2 linked regions of the Homo sapiens genome follow. The protein of the gene in region 2 purifies or fractionates together with the protein of the main gene of each other region. This does not show direct contact. Each region holds a gene or a part of one and is shown on either strand. Other genes may lie near its edges.

The links. The genes of interacting proteins can lie anywhere in the genome.
Region 1: the proteins of CCDC81 (region 2) and CD37 purify together in Homo sapiens (co-immunoprecipitation; one study listed by IntAct). This does not show direct contact.

What each region holds. Positions count from the first base shown.
Region 1 is NC_000019.10:49,334,079-49,338,205, reverse strand, and holds the start of CD37 (leukocyte antigen CD37), read right to left. Parts: upstream 2,801-4,127; 5' UTR 2,666-2,800; coding exon 2,597-2,665; intron 2,493-2,596; coding exon 2,420-2,492; intron 1,298-2,419; coding exon 1,173-1,297; intron 1,060-1,172; coding exon 985-1,059; intron 282-984; coding exon 177-281; intron 1-176. UniProt on the Homo sapiens protein: Structural component of specialized membrane microdomains known as tetraspanin-enriched microdomains (TERMs), which act as platforms for receptor clustering and signaling.
Region 2 is NC_000011.10:86,409,387-86,412,886, reverse strand, and holds part of CCDC81 (coiled-coil domain-containing protein 81), read right to left. Parts: intron 501-3,500; coding exon 328-500; intron 1-327.

The DNA.
Region 1 (4,127 bases), on a different chromosome or scaffold from region 2:
AGGCGACGCCGGGGACAGTTGTGTCATCTGGGGAGTGGGGAGCGTCGGGCCTGGGAGGGATTGGGGTGTGTTAGGATCGTAGAGCTGGGGGTCGGGCCCACGTTGGGGTGGAGTCTCCTCCAAGCACAGGGCTGAGGCGGGTCAGTCCGGGAGGGAACTGGAGGAGGGGGGCTTACCTGGAACTGCACATAGTCCCAGCTCTCCTCGGCCGCGGTCTCCTCGGGGTTGGTGCCGTACTTTTGGATGGTTTTCTCTACGACGTCCCGCAAGCTTCGCTCCAGCTGAGAGGCCACCAGTGAGGCTGGGCCTTATCTTCCCCGCCCCACCCCTCCCCCTCTCAGGCTGTGCCAGCCTCAGGCGGGCCCTGTGCATCTCTGGGCCAGTCTCAAATCCTTACTGAATGGCTAGCTCTGTGTACTTCAGGTCTGTCTTTCTGTTTCTTCCACTATTTCTACGGCTCATAAGTCTCTGTCTCTTCTTTCAGGGCGTCTATTTCTTTCTCTTGTTCTCTCTTTTTCCCGTGTGTTTCCCTTTGGAGCTGTTTATGCCTGTCTCCCTTGGTCCAGGTCGGTGTGTCTTTCTATTAATTTATTTTTTGAGACAGGGTCTCACTCTGTCACCCAGGCTGAGTGCATGGCTCACTGTAGCCTCAAACTCCCTGGCTCAAGTGATCCTCCCACCTCGACCTCCCAAGTAGCTGGGACCCCAGGTGCACACCATCACACCCGGATTTTTTTTTTAAATATAGATGGGGTCTCACTATGTTGCCCAGGCTGGTCTCAAACTCCTGGACTCCCACCTCAGCCTCCCAAAGTGCTGGGATTATGGGATTACAGGCGTGAGCCACCAGGCCCAGCCTCTTATTTCTCTTTATCTAGGTTAGCCCCTGTCTGCCCTTGTTTCGGTCTCTCTCCACCCTCTCCCACCACTCCCTTCCCTCTCCTCCCTGCTGGGGGTGGGTGGTGGCCACTGCAGGAAGCTCACCTGGGCCCGCTGAGTGGAGATGAGGATTCCCAGGGTGATCTGTGTGGCAAACAGGAGCAGCAGCATCCCAAAATACTGGGGAGCAGAGTGGAGAGATCAGGCTGACCACCCCTGCAACCCCGGCCCAGGCCATTTTTGAGGGTGGGGATAGGAGTGTTCCTAGGGACGGAGAGGGATGGTGCACTCACCAGGCCCAGGAGGCAGCGGAGCTCCTTGAGGGCCCCCACACAACCCAGGAGGGCGATGCCCATGGTGAAGATTCCTGAGATGGCCAGGACTTTGGACCAGATCTGCAGAGGCACGAAGGCCAAGCCTGGGAGAGGTGAGGGGAGTGATGATGAGCTGTGTGGCACAGCTCCAGGCAGCCCCATTTCCCACCTAGGCAGCCACCCAAGTGGGGAGCAGTATCTTGGTGCCCCTCTCTCTGGGACTCTGTCCCTGCCCCACCCTGAGTCCCTGTTTCCTTCTGAAACTTTCTCTTCTTTCTGGGCCTGTTTCCCGTCCCTGGATCTCTGTCTCTCTTCCTCTTACCCTCTCCTTCCTCCTTCAGCTCCTCCTCGTCCCCAGTAGTTTCAGCCCTATCACTTGTTCTGTGACATTGGCTTGGCTCCTTAAACCTCCCTGAGGCATAGGAGATGATATCTATTTCTTAGGGTTTTTTTTTGAGTTGGAGCCTCGCTCTGTCCCCCAGGCTGGAGTGCAGTGATGTGATCTCGGCTCACTGCAACCTCTGCCTCCCAGGTTCAAGTGATTCTCCTGCCTCAGCCTCCCTAGTAGCTGCGACTACAGGCATGTGCCACCATGCCTGGCTAACGTTTTGTATTTTTGAGTAGAGACAGGGTTTCACCATGTTGGCCAGGCTATTCTCGAACTCCTGACCTCAAGTGATCCACCTGCCTCGGCTTCCCAAAGTGCTGGAATTACAGGTGTGAGCCACCGCGCCCGGCCCCTAGGGTCATTTTGAGAGACACATGAGGACATGTGTTCAACCCAGTCCTCAACACAGGGCAAAGACTTCTTAAATATGAGCGTTTAGGGTTATATTTCATTATTATTTAGGGTCATACTTCATTATTATTTTCCTATTATTAATGTTATTTTGGCTCTTTTACGTCCTTGCTGTATGACATCCATCAAGGGGCTTCCCCTCTCTGAACCTCAAGCGAGGGGAAGGTTTGTGGGGGCATCTGACCAGCCACAAGTCCCGACAGATAGGAAGTGCTTGAGAAATGGCTCTCATGATCATTGTTGTTTGTATGCACAACCCCATTTGCCGGAAGAAGACTCAGGCTCCAAGAAGCCTCCGGTGAGCAGTGGATGGGAGCCTGTAGCCTGCCTGCAGAGTAGGGCACCGTAGGTCTCCCTGAGACAAGGGAGACCCCAGGAAGTTGCTTGGGTTGGGGGAGGCCCTCCCACCTGCCCCAGCCCCCCTCACCCACAAAGGACACGAAGCTGGTCTTGTCAATGAGGATCCAGATGCCGAAGCAGAAGATCAGGCTGCCGAGGACCTGGGGAGAGGAGATGCGGATACGGGGGTGGGCCACAGGGGAAGATGAGGGCTGGGTTAGCGGCAGGGGCTGGGCCCCGGCTGGGTAGCCATGAGGCAACTCACGAAGAAGAAGAGGTTGAAAACGAAGAGGAAGTACTTGATGAGGCTGAGGCAGCTCTCCTGGGCTGACATCTTCACCTAGTGGGGTAAGCGGTCCACTCACCACACAGAAGAGGTGCTGACAGTGGGGGAGACAGGGAGAAAGAAAGAGGCTGAGAGAGAAAGAGAGACGGAGAGCTGAGAGAGAAAGGAAGAACCCCAAAAGAGGAAGTTCCAGGGGTGGGGCTCCACCCACTCCCGCTTCATGTAAGGTGGCTTTCTGTCTCTCTCTCTGTCCCTGTCTCCCTCACCTGCTCCACTGGGACACATGCTCTGGTACCTGAGGGGCCTTGGAATTTGTGGGCACCAAGGACTCATGGGGCAGTCCCTCCCAGGTCTCCATGTCTCAGGCGCTGGGGGATCTAAAGGGACCCCTGATCTACTGGAACCCACCTCTGGGCATGGGGACCTCAGGGCTGACCCTGGACAGCAGCTGACCTCACAGACACTCTGACCTCATGGCCTGCTAAGCTCTCCCATCTCTGCATCCAGCTGTGTCTCCCATTTCCTGCCCTGGGTCTCTTGTTCCTCCTCTCTGGGTCTTTGTCCCCACCTTCCTGCTACTCCCCATCTCTGTCCCCTTATCTCAGCAGAGTCTCTCCCTCCTCTGGGTCTCTGTCCTCCTGCCTCCTGGGGTCTCTATCCTCCCTCTCTCTGTGTTTCTTTATTTTATTTATATATTTGTTTCTTTTTGAGACAGGGTCTCACTTTTCACCCAGGCTGGAGTACGGTGGGGAAAACAGCTCACTGTAGCCTGGGCTCAAGCTATCCTCCCACCTCTGCCTTCTGAGTAGCTGGGATTACAGGTGCACACTACCATGCCTGGCTAATTTTTGTATTTTTTGTAGAAATGGGGTCTTGCTATGGAGTGGGAGTGTTGTATTTTTTATATTTAATTAAAAAAAAACAGAGATAGGGTCTCACTAGGTTGCCCAGGCTGGTCTGGAACTCCTGGACTCAAGCGACCCTCCTGCCTTGGCCTCCCAAAGTGTTGGGATTACAGGCGTGAGCCACTGTGCCTGGCCTCTCTCTGCTTCTGGCCCCTTCTTTGGGTCCTTCCTCCTTTCTCTCTTCATCTCTCTTTTGTTTTTGTTTTTGAGACAGGGTCGCCCAGGCTGGAATGCAGTAGTGCGATCATAGCTCACTGCAGCCCCAACCTTCCCAGGCTCGAGCAATCCTTGCACCTCAGCCTCCCAAGTAGCTGGGACTACAGGTGCACACCACCATGCCTGGCTAATTTTCTTCATTTTTTGTAGAGATGGGAGTCTCACTGTGTTGCCTAGGCTGGTCTCAAATTTCTGGGCTCAAGTGATCCTCCTGCCTTGGCCTCCTAAAGTGCTGGGATTATGGGCGTGAGCCACTGTGCCCAGCCTGTCTTCTTTTCTCTGTCTCCCCCTTCCCCACTTGTTTTTGTGCCTCTCAGAGTCTGCAGCCTGTTCTGGACCAGGGAGCACCCAGGTGCTGGGGGCAGGGGCTGGGTACCTGGGGAAGTGAA
Region 2 (3,500 bases):
CACATGCCCACTGGGGCTTCAGGAGCTGTAAACATTCACCCCTAGATACTGCCGTGTGGCCAGAGCCCCACAGCCTGCCCATCTGTATGCTCTCCTAGAGGTTTGAGCAGCAGGGCACTGAAGAAGCAAGCCACACCCCCACTGCATGCCCTGCGAGGGGGACGAGGGAACTTTTCCCATTTCAGTACTGGCTGCTAACTGGGTTAGTTTGCTCAGTTGGTTACAGTGTGCTAATGAAACTACCAATGCTGATTCAATCCTACATGAAAAGTAACTTCACATGAAAATTCCAAATCCATTTGTCAGAGCGTGTGTAGCTGGACTCACTCCTCTGTGAGTTGCACTTGTTCCAGGCGGTCCATCAACTCTCTGTATTGTCTTTGCTTTATTTCGTTTTCCTGTCTGTTATCCATTTGTTTCAGGAGACTCCGGGAATATTCCTCTTGCTTAAGAGCATTAAGCGCAGGACTGAGTGGCCGTTTGTCAAATAGGAAGGATTTCTAGAATGAAAGAGAAGCAATTCATTTATGCTAGAGTACTGAAAAACAAGGTTAATAATTCAGAAGACTAAGATAAATCAGAAAGTATTTCTTAATTTATAATATTTGCCCAGCCCTCAACACACGGACCAGCTGGTGTTGAGGTAACACATAGAATCATATGAGTGTGTTCAAGGATGAAGCTGAGCTGAGCTGTGTTACCAAAACACCAGGGGTTTGGTCTAGGTGCTCACAGCACAGAAAGCCAATCACTGAGACAATGATTATTGCCAGGGAAGAAGGATTTAATTGGGTGCTGTAGCCAAGGAGATGAGAGATCAGTCTCAAATCCATCTCCTTGACCAACTAAAAGTAGGGGTTTATATAGCAGGGAAGAATTGAAACTATGTATGGGAAAACCAGAATTCGGGAGGGATAAGGAAGCAATCATGGTCAATGGAGGGGCCTGGCTCATTGTCTGAATGCAATCATCTGGTGAGTTTCAATTCTTTGACACTTTTTGGAAGGCCTAGTGGTTCTTTTCTGAGGAAGAAACTCAGATAAAACAATGTTAAGTTTCAAGCTTTAAGACCAAAAGGGTCAATTTCTATGTTTATTTAAAACAAAAACAAAAACAAAACCTGTCTGTGGGACTATTGGGTCAGTTTCAACTGGAATCCCATTGCTGAGACAGAGATGAAAAAGGACTCCTGGAGTAGGTTGTGAGTTAGCATTTACAACATCCAGATGGAAGGAAGAAGGAATTCTGAGTGCATGCGAAATCATGCAAGGACAGAGAGGAGCTGAAAGGAGGGCAAACTGAATACCTACTGTGGGCCTGGCCATTCTAGACCCTGGTGATCCAACAGTGAGCAACAACAGAGATCTTCGCACTCATCAAGCCTGCATGCTGATGCAGGAGACAGACAATGAGCAAGAAACGGTACATCAGGTCATTTAAGATAGTGCTAAGTGCTAGGAAGCCCTTATGATAGCAAGTGGCTGGGTGGGAAAAGAGCTAAACTGGTTGGTTATTAGGGAAGGTTTTTCCATGGAGAAAATGAATCACCTTCACTGTAAATATCAGGGAGACCCGTGTTCCATACAGAAGGAACATTAAGCGCAAAGACACTAGATGGAAACAAGCTAGGCATGTTCAATGAGCAGAAAAAAAGTCTCTGTGGCTGAGGCATAGTGACCAAGGGAAAGGAGAAGGCATAGTGACCAAGAGGAAGGCAGGAGTCAAAGCGTGTAGAATTTGATAGTTGAAGGTGAGGAGTCTAAATTTCATTTTAACTCAATGGGAGGCCAGTGGAGGTTTTAAATGGGAGAATAGTATGTTTTGGTTAACAATATTATAATATCACTTTGGCTGGTGTGTGGAGAATAAATTATAGGAGAGCAAGAATGCAAGCAGTGAATCTAAGGGAAGTATTGGAGAAGTTGAGCATAACAATGTGGCTTGGCAACACTTTCAGTGTGGCAACATTAAAGATGAAGACATTTGGACAGGTATTGGATACATTTTGGAGGTAAAGGCAACTGGACTTGCAAATGATCGGAAGTCAGGAACAGAGAAAGGAATATTGTGATCATGACTAAATACAGGTTTGTGCAAAAATGGCTGGTTGGTGATGCCACTTACTAACATGAGAAGACAGAAAGGAACAGGTTAAGGAGGGAATCAAAAGTTCTGTTTAGGTCTTTTTAAATTTAAGATGTGTATAGATATATCAAAGAAGAGATACACAGCAGTAATAAATATAATCTGGAGCTTATATATAAAGAGAGAGAAAGATCATGCCTAAATTTCAGAAGCCCCATGCTCGCTCGCTCTCTCCTTCCTTCCCTGTTTCCCTGCCTGGAATGCTCTTCCTCCCTTGATTTCTTTACCTAACTCTTGTATGTCAGAAAGTCTTTCCAGATCTCTGGTCTAGGTTAATGAATCTCTTCTTTTGCTCATATAGTGCCCTTTTTTCAGAGATTTATCATCGCATTTATTATACCACACAGTTGTCTCTTTAAGTGTCTGTCTCTCCCACTAGAGACCTCTTCAGAAGAGGGAACCTTGTATTCCTAGACACCAGCACAGTGGCTGGCCTGGAGGAATTCAATAAATGTTTGATGATGAATAAATAAATTATAATTTATTAGATTTATGTCCGGAGTGTCGACTACCTAGATGGTGATATATAAAGAGGAAGATTCAGGCAGAAATAAAGGTAGGCACATGATGATTGAAAACATTAAAACAAGCAGTGAAGCAGTTGGCTCACCACCATCTGAATCTGAGTTTCTCAAACATTAATGCAAATACAAATCACCTGGGGATGTTATTCCACCATAGATGCCCATTCAGGGAGTCTGGGGTGAGGCCCTAGATTCAGCATTTCCAGCAAGTTCCCAGGCAATGCTGATACTGCTGGTTCTCTTAGGTCCTTGGGCTGGACTTTAGTAGTATACTGCTCCCTCCTCTCCACCCATCCCACGTCCTGGTTGAGAATTACCATAATTAACAAGACCTGCAGTGACTAGTAGGAATGGTACAGTGAATGTGAGTGGTGTGGCTATAGACACTGGACAACACCTGCCCTAGAAGAAAGCTTCAAACTGCACCACCCACTTTTCAACTCCGCTGCTTAAAAAAAATGGCACAACTGGCTGGGCATGGTGGCTCACACTTGTAATCCCAGCACTTTGGGAGGCCAAGACGGGCAGATCATGAGACCAGGAGTTCAAGACCAGCCTGGCCAACATGGCGAAACCCTGTCTCTACTAAAAATACAAAAATAGCGGGGCATGGTGGCGGGTGCCTGTAATCCCAGCTACTCGGGAGGCTGAGGCAGGAGAATGACTTGAACCCGGGAGGCAGAGTTGCAGTGAGCTGAGACCACACCATTGCACTGCAGCCTGGGTGACGGAGCAAGACTCCATCTCAAAAAATAAAAATAAAAAATAAGGCACAACCTGCAACACAGGGAGTGGATCCAAAGGCTCACAGATGGGCCAGGTGTTAGCAAC